3 separate regions of the Homo sapiens genome follow, and regions 1 and 2 are each reported to be linked to region 3. Evidence: microRNA targets listed by miRTarBase, many of them from high-throughput screens and not tested one by one. Region 3 holds a microRNA gene; each other region holds the end of a gene's coding sequence.

Region 1 (4,331 bases), not on the chromosome of region 3:
TCATTAAAAACAATAAAACAAAACAAAACAAAAAAACTAACCAGTTATGATTGCAGATAAGTCTGTGCAGTAAGAGTGACAAACATTTCACGATTAAGTCATGTATAAACATGCCTTTAATTGCCACAGTTTAAAGAAAGTGAGCAGCAAATTTAGATAGTATACTAGTGTTCAACGCTGAAATCACTCAAAATATAAAGGGCATTTTTAAGGCTTTTAGCTTGCCTTCCCAATCTATGTGATAAATTAAATGGAACAAATAAAAACATATTGGATCAGAGACTCAGCTTCTATGTGTATGTTTAGAAACTGCATAGTCATGAGAGCATAAGATACATTTCTAAAACAGAATTTTTTAAAAATTCAAACATACTATAACTGAAGCACTCACCATTCTAATAAGAGAGTCTTTCTGAGGGTAAATGACCAGCATGTCTAATAATGCCATCACTGGAGGAGGGCACACAGTCTACTATAACCAGAGGACAAGGTTCCTATAAATTACATACTGAAAATGATTCACAAAACCATGAAAGAAAAAATGTAAGCAGCTGACAAAAGAACTACTGATAAACAATAAGCTACAATGGACAAATCATTTCACTCTTTAGTCTGTGGTATGAGAATGGCCAAAAATAGGTGGGGAAAAATGCCTGTATAAGTACATTCTTGGACTTTTCAAAAAAAGAAAAGAAAAGGGTTTACAGTATAATATTTCAATTATCTTACGGAAAGAAACTATCAAAATAAAACATACATGTTTGTTAAAAAAACACAAGTTCATTTTAATAAGGTCATGAACTTGAAAAATTATTTTTGAGCTACAAAAATGGGTAAGGAATAGTTTGTTCTTCAAAAGTATCTCTTTTGTTATTGGTTAATTTAATATGATTCCTTAACTAAATACCAAACCTAGGAAGTGGAGGAAACTTGTGGCCGTTAAAGCAAAGCAGCACTAGGAACATGTCCATGCTCTGAACAAAAGCACTGTGTAATGATTCCTGCCATGACTCCATAGAGAGGAATAACTACTACTCAGAAATAAGTGGTCTGTAAGAAAGAGACAGTGAACAATTACAACAAAGAAAGATAAGGCCACAATGAGTTCTGCCCTTGATCACTGAAACAGATTTAAGGTGTGAGGCAGGATTAGCTTATAAGAGAGAAGTGAGTGATTGGAGCAGATTTGAAGAAAAAAGGCGATATAGAATAAAATGCAGCCTGGGGGTGATTAAAAAGGCTTGCAGTAAGAGAAAACCGCAATAACTGATTTAACCACCTAACGTGCTTTACAAATGACCTTCCCCTTGAAAACTGAGGAAAAGGCGATTTAAAGATGTTAGGAAGAATATTTACAGTGGCATAGTCTGAGCATAGAGTGAGTGATGAAGACAGCAAAGCTGGAAAAAAAATGCTACTAATAATAATTTCTAAAAAGTCTATTAATGGAAACTTTTTCAAAACAGCCCAGGACACCAGAAAGACAATGTTCTGTAGGGAAACACTGTAGGAAGTTACAGTTTTGCATTCATAAGGTACTGTGGCTCCTGTTTTATGGGACAGTAAAAGCTTACCACAATCTAGAGGTAGTTTTTACTCTAAGAGGGATGATTGTATTACTAGACTGTGTTGTATAACATTACACACGTGGTTCCTGTACTAAATGTAGCCCAATGAGTCTGCTGCAATTTCGAAGAAACCAAACAAAGGCATAAACAAAGTTCAGGAATGAAAGCACGGTAAAACCGGCGGGGTTAGCAAGCAAGGCCAACCTACAACCCTGAATGCAACCAAATCTCAACTGAAAAGAAAAGAAACATTTTCTGAGTTAGGAGACATTTGTGGAGATGCTCAGTACTGGAAAAGAGAAAACAAACAAACAAAAAAGGCAGAGAAAAAAATGAAAACATAAGTTACATTTGCATTTTATAATCTTACAACTATCTGTTTCTAAAGTACTGTCTTCCAGCTATTTTAGTTGATCATCTAATAAAAGCATCTTATGTTTTAAGATTACAATGATGTTCTGGCTAGGCTACCCCCTCCAACCCCCCAAAAAAGTAAAGATAATAAAACATGCTTTTGCGGACATTTTCCTCATTCTACCATTAAGGGCACCATCTACCAACTGGTAGCAAATACTTCCCATATTTTTTGTCACTTGCCAACAAGGCAGAAAATACCCTGCTGAATGAAATCACTGGGAACATTCCAAGTTCAAAATAAAATGTTTAACTTACACATAATACAAGTTATGTACAAGATTAGGAGGGGGGAAAAACCTGAACAAATCCTGGAACACACCTATGTATTTACGTCATGGGAAAAGGGGAGAGAACACTTCAAATATCAACAAGTTCTGCGCCATTAACTCATTAATAGCTAAATGGCCACACCAAATTGCATGTGAATGTTAGAACCTCTCAGATAACCACAATAAGTCCATATTTTTTTTTAAAAAAAGGAAAACACAGAAATAACTACCAACAGTGTCTGAGAAGAGAGACTAAGTTAACATACATTGCATGTATTGCAGGCAAGGCAGAGGCATTTTTTTAAAGCTTTTGCACAGACTTCATATAATCTTAAAAAAAATATGCAGGCCTTTGCAAGATTTGACTTGCTGAAATCCAAACAATTTTGACTCATGAAAAGTCATAAGACTTCAGCTGAAAAAAAAGAAAAAAGTTCCAGCCTTAGACCAAAAAAAAAAAACCTGGAAGAGTATGATAGATTAAACAAGGATGGTCAGGCTTGGAACCTGAATGTATTTTAGAGCAAAAGCTCAAAGGTGGGTGGGGAAGAGAACAACCTATTTGGTAACAAGGTGTACTATAATACCGTGATATAAAAAAAGGTATGGTGAAAATGTACCTTTTACTAAAGCTTATACAATATACAAGTTCCTTGGTCCATAAAAACTATGTTAGATTTGTGTCTTCTAGTTTGTTCAACTTGTATTCCAGCCACATTATTTACTTCTTGCCCATTTAAACAAAACCAAACAAAAACCAACCAACCAACCAACAAAACAGCTGAAAAACTTGATTTCCAATATTTATACATTTTGATTTTTTTTTCTTTTTTTTTTTTTTTTTTTTTTTTTTTACTGTGGCTTCTGCATTTCAAATCAGCACTTGCAGGGAGACAACGGGGTTTTTGAATAGTATCACCTGGTATGAAAAGTTTTCCCAAGAAACCACAAACGATTGTTCATTTTTTCTCCTTTTTTGTTAACTTTTTGCCACACTCAAGTCAGTTTAAGTCCTAGCAAAAAGACGGTAGTTAGGATACCACTGTGGCTGTAGATGATGTGACACTGGTTGAATTTGTGCTGGCGTTTGTGTAACTTCCCTCGCTGTTTGTGTTTGATTCGTTAGGGGGCACCTGGCTTGAATTGGCTCGAAGGATTGCTCCTGCTGCACTGCAATGTGGCCGCGGCCCTGGTTCTGGTGTGTAGGTAAAGGTAAGGCTGGTGGAATAAATGATTCCATCATTTCGGACCAAAGTTACTGGAACCTGGACTGGTTGCCGGACCCATCTCCAACCTTCTCGGAATGCAGAAATGTCTGGGACGACACAGAGCATACTCTCTCCACACCTGAGGAGGAAATAGAAATCACTTAAAAACACTTTAAAAAGCAAAGTACATGTTAAAAATGAGACTTAACACAAGGTTGTTTAATACATTACAATCAGTGCCAGGAAAGAATCTCCTGTACCCACACCCCTCACAACCTCTGGATGATGCAAAAAGTTTTATCAAGTACCTGTACATAGTTTCAGCTTCTACATCCCCAAACCACACTCGTAAATTTGGAGTGAAATTCTGTCCTGTAAGTTCAAGCATTGCTACGTCCCCACCGCCATTCAACTGCAATTCACAGAAAATCACAACACTGAGAAAACTTTTCATTTTTCATTAAAGTACACAAATTAGATTCTCATTCAACTTTCATTTGTTTTTTTTAAAAAAGGGCAATTAAAATGTTTTTTATTACAAAGCTAGCTAAAAACATTTCAAGATAACATACAAGTTTATTTACATTTAAATTTTCTGGCAAGTACGCTCCTCCTAATTTTGTTTTTTTTTCTTTAAATCAACAAATGGTGTATATAAAAATCCCCTAATCAGACGATTGGAGAAAAATCAAAACTCCCATGAAATGAAATGATGCCAGGTCACAGCTGAGAGTAGCTGCAAAGAGCTGAAGGCCAACTTGGACTAGGCGTTCTCACCTGAAGGCTCTCTACCACAGGCACAGGAGTGACTGGGGCAAGGACAGGGCCCATTCCCTCATAAAATGTATACTCTGCCTTATCTGTGCTAA
Region 2 (4,356 bases), not on the chromosome of region 3:
GCTGGCATTACCATGCCCGGCTAATTTTTGTATTTTTTTGTAGAGATGGAGTTTCACCATGTTTGCCAGGCTGGTCCTGAACTCCTGACTTCAGGTGATCCGCCCACCTCGGCCTCCCAAAGTGCTGGGATTATAGGCATGAGCCACCATGGCTGACCAGATATTTCATTAATGCGTGATATTTAATATTTATTGTCAAAATCAAGTTTCTTATCTAAAATAAATGAGTTAGTTGAAAACAAACTAATCATGCAATTATCACGCAACTCAGCAGTTGTATTGCTGGGCATTTATTCCAGAGAAGTGAAGTCTTATGCTTCATATCCCACCCTCTACCCTCGCCCCTGGCAAAAACAAACAAACAAACAAACAAAAAACCTGTTTCTGAAAGTTCATAGCTGCTTTATTTGTAACAAATAAAGTAGTATTCCATTGTGTCTTAAAGCCACCCAATGGAATACTACTCAGCAATTTAAAGAACTGAACTATTGATACATGCAACAATGCCAATAGAACTCAAGGGCATTATGCTGACTGAAAAAAGCCAATCCAAAAAGTTTCATACAATACGATTTCATTTATACGTTTCTTGAAATGACCAGATGATAGAAATGGAGAAGAGATTAGTGGCTGCCAGAAGTGAAGATGGGAGGGAAGTGGGTGTAGCTACAAAAAGACAACGTGAAGAATGTGGCGATGGGAATGTTCTGTATCCTGGTTGTGCTATTGTACTATAGTTCTGCAAGATGTTATCATTGGTGAAAACCAGGGAAAGAATACTCATGATCTTTTTCTATTATTTCTTACAACTGCATGTGAATTAACAATTATCTCAAAATTTTTAAAGTTTAATTTTTAAAAATGATCTGTGATTTGTATTTAACCTTTTTAGTTTTCCTTTGGATTGATTTATGTATCATATTATAATGTATAGGTTGCAATATGATCTTAACATAAAAGATTCCTTTTATTACTAACATATTCCACATTCAGTTATATAGAATATTCTCATTATTAAAAAGGTTCTTTTAAGCTGCTCAGCCTTGTTACATTTAGAAGACTATAAATATATAAAAATACAAACACATACACAGAGATTTCCTTTGATAGTTTTGACCTACCTTTTGGTTTTCTTGTTCAAAGTGTTCTTTCCTCTGTCTTTTCTCATATTTTTTAAACTTTTCTGTGACTTTTTTTTTTTTTTTTTTTTTTGAGACGGAGTCTTGCTCTGTCACCAGGGTGGAGTGCAGTGGCGCAATTTCGGCTCACTGCAACCTCCTTCTCCCGGGTTCAAGCAATTCTCCTGCCTAAGCCTCCCAAGTAGCTGGGACTATAGGCGCACACCACCATGCCCAGCTAACTTTTGTATTTTTAGTAGAGATGGAGTTTCACCAAGATGGTCTTGATCTCTTGGCCTCGTGATCCATCCACCTCAGCCTCCCAAAGTACTGGGGTTACAGGCGTGAGCCACTGCTCCCGGCCCACTTATCTTAATACTTGCAAAATTTCAAAATGAGAAAGGAGTAAATTTGGTTTTGTACATAGCATCTTTAAATACACTGCTATCCAAGGGAAGTATTGAGAGCCGTGTGTTGGGAATGGGGATGAAGGAAGTTCTCTCCCCAGAGAGCCTCGAATCCTTGCGTTGACTTTGAATTCTCAACAATCAACTGTGCTGGTAACAGAATAGGCTGGCCCAGATAGTGGGTAGGAAGGTGCAAGCTGCAGACTCATGCTTTAATAGTGGCCCCAAGTGACAGTGGCAGGGACTGCAGGCACTCAGCCGCATCCAAGACCACCGGGCTGAGGAAGGGCGGCTGTCCTTGCGTGGGTGGACATGAAGGTCAAAAAAGTCCTGGAGGGGGCCAGGATGACTTAAGGCAATCAAGGCCCAGATCTGCATGCCACATGGGTGCAGGGGGCCAGGGTCACACTCTGTCCTGGCACTGCTCCGGGAAGGGAATTGCAGGCCATTTGTCCTCCTCAGACATTGGATCGCCCTCTGGAGGTTCAAGAGTGAAAGGTTTGAGGGGATAGGGAAATGAAGAGATCACAAGACAGATGTACATCCAGTCTTGACACTCAATGCCAGGCAGTCTTCCAAAGCCATCCTCTCCTACCCTGGGTATTGTCCTCCTTTTCCATATTTTTGGTTTTGGTGGTGTGCAATGACATCCCATGGTGGCTTGAACTTTTGCCACTTCAGGATCCGTTTTGCTCCTATTCCCCAATTCACTAAGAGTCACCACCATCCACCCACACCCTCAAGCCAAAACCTAGGAGTCCTCCTAGATTCCCCTCTCCTCCCTCCACATCAGCAAGTTCTGTTGGTTCCACTCCCAGATAGAGCCTTTTCTCTCCATCACAAGCTCCCTGGTCCAAACCATTATTGTCTCTCTCAAATCTTCCAAAGCTCCCCCTCCATTCCCTTTACCGTCCCTATCCCCACTCACTGTCCACATGCAGACAGAATGGACTTTCTGAAATGTGAATCAGATTCTGGCATCGCCTCCAGTTTACTAGACTCCAGCCAGCAGACCAAACCTCATCTTTGACCATGTCAAGCCCTTGTGCACATACTACGGACTGTCCCCTGTCAGAATGAATGGTGGTTACATCCTCTTCCTTTAGATCTCAACTCAAAGGTCGCACTTCCATGGACTTTTTCAAATTAGGCACCCATATCTAAACAAACCCAGCCAACTACTCTATCACATCACCATGTTTTTTTTTCCTTCTTAGCATTTCTGTAAGATAATTGGAGAGTCTGATATTTATTTATTGTTCGTCTCTTCCACCAGTATAAGTTACATAAAAGCAGAGATTGTGTTTATCTTGATCACAGCCAAATCCCTAGCATCTGGCATAGTGTCAGCTCAGAGAAGACATTCAAAAGATATTTTTGAATGAATAGATAAAACCATTTCTTCTTTAAAAAAATTACTGTAAATGTGGCTACTACACCATGAAAATAGACCAAGAAGCATGAGAGTTACACAATAGACATTTATTCACTTCAACATCACAATTTCACACGAAGTTGGAGGAAGCCCTTCCCTAACAAAACAAGCATTCGCATTAGGGGAAGGAGGCTGACCTGCTCTAGGGATGAAATACATCTACCAAGATATAGATAAAAACAAAAACAAAACAGATGGTAGAGCCAAAAAACAGAGACATTAAAGGAAATGAAAAACGTTATACCAAGTAATGTTTATAAATCCAGATCATAAGTGAACGTAGGTTACAAAAATGGAAGTTGTAAGTATTGTTATTCTTGTACTTTTCACACAAACAGAATTTTTAGAAAAGCTTAAGGTCAGGGAGTGCTAGAGAGTTTCTGTATGGCAGGCAAGAATTCTTCCTTTTGAACAAGACCGAAAAACCTCAGGACAAAGAGAAAGTATATCTTTTAAAAACTGATTTCATAGTAATGTTTCTACATATTTTGAAGCACCTTTATGTATTTAGAGCATATCAAATTAATTCATTTCTTTCCCTGTTAATAAAAAAGGTACATTCACAGAATCAGTGTACTTAGAATAAAAAATAAACAGAGGAAATAAGAACTAACTCGAGTTAATAACAACATCTTTAAGGACAAGTTTGGTCATTTAAAAACTAAGTCTTGTTTTGTTTTGCTTGTTTTTAATTACTCCTTTCATACTTAATATTTCAAATATAGCTGCTTCAGCAGGACAGCTTTTCAGTATCACAGTAAGTACAGCCCAATACAGGATCATCCAAAAACACGTTGACACTTCCAAGACACTGGCACGGGGTCCACGGAGTTTTGCGCGTAAAATTTTAAAAACCCTTCCTACGGTGATGTTTAAGGCCAGGAGCATTCATTTCTCAACCTTGTATCAATCCAGGATCCATCGGACTAGGTTTCATTAGGCAAGAGAGTAGTTCGTTCCTCCTCTGTGCTGAGGATGTTTTGAGATTTAGACCTACATTGAGGGAAAGAAGAGATGAATCTCAATATTTCTCATCTTAAAAACAAACAAACAAACAAAAAACCAGTACCTGTATCTCCATCCAACTATCTTTTTAAAAAAGTTTCTACTGCCCGGGCATGGTGGCTCACGCCTGTAATCCCAGCATTTTGGGAGGCAGAGGCAGGCGGATCACTTGAGGTCAGGAGTTCGAGACCAGCCTGGCCAACATGGTGAAACCCTGTCTCTACTAAAAATACAAAAATTAACTGGGCATGGTGACCCATGCCTGTAATCTCAGCTACGTGGGAGGCTGAGGCAGGAAAACCGCTTGAACCCGGGGGGCAGAAGTTGCAGTGAGCTGAGATTGTGCCACTGCATGCCAGTCTGGGTGACAGAGCAAGACACCATCTCAAAA
Region 3 (4,000 bases):
AAGGATCACAGGGTTAAAGTGTGAATGCAATTGAATATTTCTCTATTTGGTGGAAAATGTTTTTGTGAATATATATTCAAGGAGCACATTTGGTGAAAGGCAGGAAAAACCGGGTTTGAAGTAATCAAGGTCAAAATGACAGGCTTTATCATCAAGCTCTGTTTGCTGTATCAATCTGAGAAATCTATTGTTTATGCAAAGGTAAAAAAGTCCAGTTTTTCTACATATTGCCAGCACAATGAAAAGGCTTGAGTAGTGGTATAACTTTTTTGGGAAACGGTTTTTAATTGCTCTATTTTATACTGGCACTTATATATTTGGGGATTTGGAGGGTCATTGAAATATATTCCTTACAAATAAATGGCAAATGGATTACTGTGGTCATCCTGGGAGATAATATACTCGCTATATCTGATTGATGTTCAAAACATTTTCAAAACCATTCTAAATCACTTGAGTCATGAGAAGACTAATCTCTGTACTTGACAGTGGTCTAATTTGTAGCCCTAAACCAGAAGATAATGTGGTTTAATTATAGTATTCATCGTTGTTTCTAAGTTAGTTTGGGCTTAAAAAAAAGTTTGGCTTTTCTAGGGATAATGGTAGCCATACATAATTTTAAGTACCTCTAGGGTACACAGAAAGAGCTGTAAGGGATTCTCAGGCATAATTAAGAGAAAGAAAACCTACCAGAAGCAGGATTGAATAGACCATGGAAGAAGACATCTTATAAACAGGAGGAATTTAAAAGCAAGAAGGCTTAACATATTTAGACCACAGGAAAATTTAATTAGAAACTAATGTCTATTATCTCCCGCGATATATTAAAAACAGACAGACAAAACAAAACAAAAAGCCAATAGAGAATCTAGAAGTAGTGGAAAAAACTAAATTTCCTGACTGGAAAAAAGTAAATTCCCAATTGCTACCTAACCACTCTTCTTTCCTCCCAATCTCATCTGACGCTGATTTTCGGTAGAAAGAAAGAATTGATGAATTCAGGCTGGGCGCGGTGGCTCATGCCTGTAATCCCAGCACTTCAGGAGGCTGAGGCAGGTAGACTGCTTGAGCTCAGGAATTCAAGACCAGCCTGGGTAACGCGGTGAAACCCCATCTCTACAAAAATTTGTTGGGGCTACTTGAGGGGCTGAGGAGGGAAGGACTGCTTGAGCCCAGGAGGTGGAGGTTGCATCAAGATCGTGCCATTGCACTCAAAAAAAGAAAAGAAAAGAAAAGAAAAGAAAAGGAATAGATGAATTTATATGCTTGATGTTAAAATCTAAATCTCTAAATGTCTCTCTTTGTCCCAATCCTTAAATATGCCTTATTCTTAAAGGTAAACCTCATGTGCACTTTATGATCCTCTTATCTACCAAGATCAGTTTTTTGTCAAGATAGGGATAGTAAACATCTTATACAATAAATGGAACATAACATAATCTAATTCCTTGGTCTATCTTATAAAACCAGATTCAGTATATATTTTTTTACTTTTTGTAGAGACAGTGTCTAGCCATGTTGCCCAGGTTGGTCTGGAACTCGTGGCCTCAAGCAGTACTCCCATCTAGGCCTCCCAGAGTGTTGAGATTACAGGTGTAAGCCATCATGCCCGGCCAAAAAAAGTGACTTAAATAATTTGCTTTTATAGTACCTAGAAATGTACAGTGGGTATTGAAGAAAAATGTGTTGAATAAAAACTTGCAATAATTTGCCACTAGTTAAGTTCCTATCGCCTTAAAAAGTACACTAATTTTTATTACTGCCTCACTTATTTGTGCTTGCATCTTCTAAACAATTCACACTTTAGAGTGACTTTAGGCATATTCCTGTCTGGAATACTGACACTTTTAGATTAGAGAACAAGTTTATTCAAAAGGGTAGTAGTAGGAAGAATAATTTCAGCTTTCCTAAAATCTTAAGAATTATCAAACTCAATTATAACTCTGGTGACCGCTGAAGAAATACTGAAGAACTAACTATAGTCAAATCTGTCCAAGTTCAGGTAGAGCATCATAATTAACCTTGATTTTTCAGATACTACCAACCCTTAAAAACCATCAGTCCCATGAAAATACAAGTCAACATATGAAAGTATAATAATTTAACTAAATCTTGATTAGACACATGCACCAAACACACTGCTACGTGGTCAGAATAAGCACTGCTAATCCGTGACAATACATGACAATATGGAGGGCTTAGGTCATTACAGAAAAGGAGAAAGTAATACATGACAGCATGTGACAATTTGTGATAATACAGGGGCTTAGGTCATTACAGAGAGAAATTAACCGTGTATTGGATAAATGAAAGAATTTTAACTTACTACCCTGAATTTTCTTGGAGACATGACTGCCTTCATAAATTGAGATTTACAGACTTTAATATCAACATATGTAAACTGATAAGGACACAATTTACCTTCACTGCCACTAGCGATGAAGTCTTCATTATGGCCTCCAAAACATGAATGAATTGTATAAAACCCTTGTGTAACACCTTGATACTTTCTTACTAAAACTCTGTCTTGCAAGTCCCATAAATGAACTCCCTGCAGGCAAAGGAGAATACAGATATTTAATCTGCCTCAACTCAAACAAATTTTAAAAAGTATCTGTAAATATCCCTTTGCCTGATGAAATATCTTCATTTTCTATTATGCAAAATACCAACATTCTGACAAATTTATGGTTGATTATACACATTTAAGGATCAATCACATGCAATCAAATTTAAGGGTAAGTAGAAAATTTTGTTAATATAAATACACTGAAAATAACAGTTAAAATAAAACTTGTACTAAGCCAAATTTTTCAGAAAATTATACTAATAAACATACCTGAGTTGCTACATTTAACAAAGCTAATCGGCCATTTTTTGAAATAGTAAAAGACATAATAGGATGATCTTCTTGTACTCTGGAACCAGAAAATAATTTGTCAAAAACAACATATTAACAGTCAAGACATTCAAATTATCAATACATAAGATGTGCTAGCTTAAGTATGACAATTTTGCCTGCAATCACTATTACATACTATACTTCAATTGAGAAGAATCTGAGTTACTGATTACTAAGTACCATGTGACCTTCAATCCAAATTACCACGCAAACCAAAACGAAAAACATAAAAACTGTGAAAAGGCAAGTTCCACTACACATTTGAATATAAATCAGGTAATTGTTGTTTAATGGAAACAAAAAATAGTTACATGTTCCTATCTGTAAGGTCCTCGAAGTTATAGCCCCGAATTCGCTGGTGTGTATCTGATGCCAGAACAGTCTTTCCATCACTCAAGCACCAAAGGCATTGCACTCTTACCCCTTCCCAGGAGTCAAGGAGATTACCATCTAAGTCCTGAGTAAGAAAAAACTACTATTAACTTCATTACTCAACAGCACTCAGAAAGCAAATAAAGAACCAAAAGACTCCCTTCACAATATCTTTTAGTAACAGGTTTTTTTTTTTTCCTGAGACTGATCTCAACCTAATTGTTCTAGAAGTGTTTTTAACCATGAAAATTTGAATATAGTTCAAATTTCATTACAACCATACTTAAGGGAAAGCAGAGAGACACTTTGTAGCTCTATCTTCCCTTCAATAACTCACCATGCATAAATAACACAAAGAAAGAAACAGTCCCTAAGTTCCAAGTAAGGTCTTACTTTTATTCAAAAACAATTTAAACGTTCCTTTAAAATTCACTATACTGGAATTTGTCCTAATATTTAGGAGTTGTGAAATGGAAAAAGATTCTAAAACATTTTACAGCTTCATACAGACTGGAGGAATCTGTTAATGACATTTTTCAAAAATTTACCAAATTTGTAATGTGCTCTACAGATCAAAGCTCTTATAGTCATTATCTCATTGAATATCCAAAGTTCTGAGAGGAACAACCCTTCCCATTTTATAAGTTAGATAATCCTGTATCTTGATGGCTTAACACAGTATAGGACAGCAAACTCAGCAGAAACATACATGATCATCTTGCACGC

What was found. Region 3 holds the annotated microRNA hsa-miR-4742-5p (UCAGGCAAAGGGAUAUUUACAGA, at 2,614-2,636, opposite strand). A microRNA usually pairs through its seed, bases 2 to 8, with sites in the 3' UTR of a target mRNA and lowers its output. Matches are read on the target gene's strand: a 7mer-m8 pairs with bases 2 to 8, a 7mer-A1 pairs with bases 2 to 7 and ends in A, and an 8mer does both.
Region 1: the mRNA of RBPJ is a reported target of hsa-miR-4742-5p. Seed matches in the 3' UTR shown: 7mer-m8 at 2,534-2,540.
Region 2: the mRNA of SLC18B1 is a reported target of hsa-miR-4742-5p. Seed matches in the 3' UTR shown: 7mer-m8 at 3,349-3,355.

The regions. Positions count from the first base shown.
Region 1 is chr4:26,429,962-26,434,292 of GRCh38, reverse strand. It overlaps RBPJ (recombination signal binding protein for immunoglobulin kappa J region), which reads right to left. Exons shown (of 11, transcript NM_015874.6): 9 at 4,240-4,331; 10 at 3,771-3,874; 11 at 1-3,601. The coding sequence ends at 3,286. Among named protein-coding and RNA genes, the nearest start is that of CCKAR, 58 kb to the left of the region's middle.
Region 2 is chr6:132,766,384-132,770,739 of GRCh38, forward strand. SLC18B1 (solute carrier family 18 member B1) reads right to left here. Exons shown (of 14, transcript NM_052831.3): 14 at 2,987-3,953. The coding sequence ends at 3,887. Among named protein-coding and RNA genes, the nearest start is that of VNN2, 11 kb to the left of the region's middle. RefSeq lists an enhancer at 1,823-1,982.
Region 3 is chr1:224,395,676-224,399,675 of GRCh38, forward strand. It overlaps MIR4742 (microRNA 4742), which reads right to left and starts at 2,636; the gene lies at 2,552-2,636. It overlaps WDR26 (WD repeat domain 26), which reads right to left. Exons shown (of 14, transcript NM_001379403.1): 10 at 3,214-3,359; 11 at 2,840-2,918; 12 at 2,422-2,551.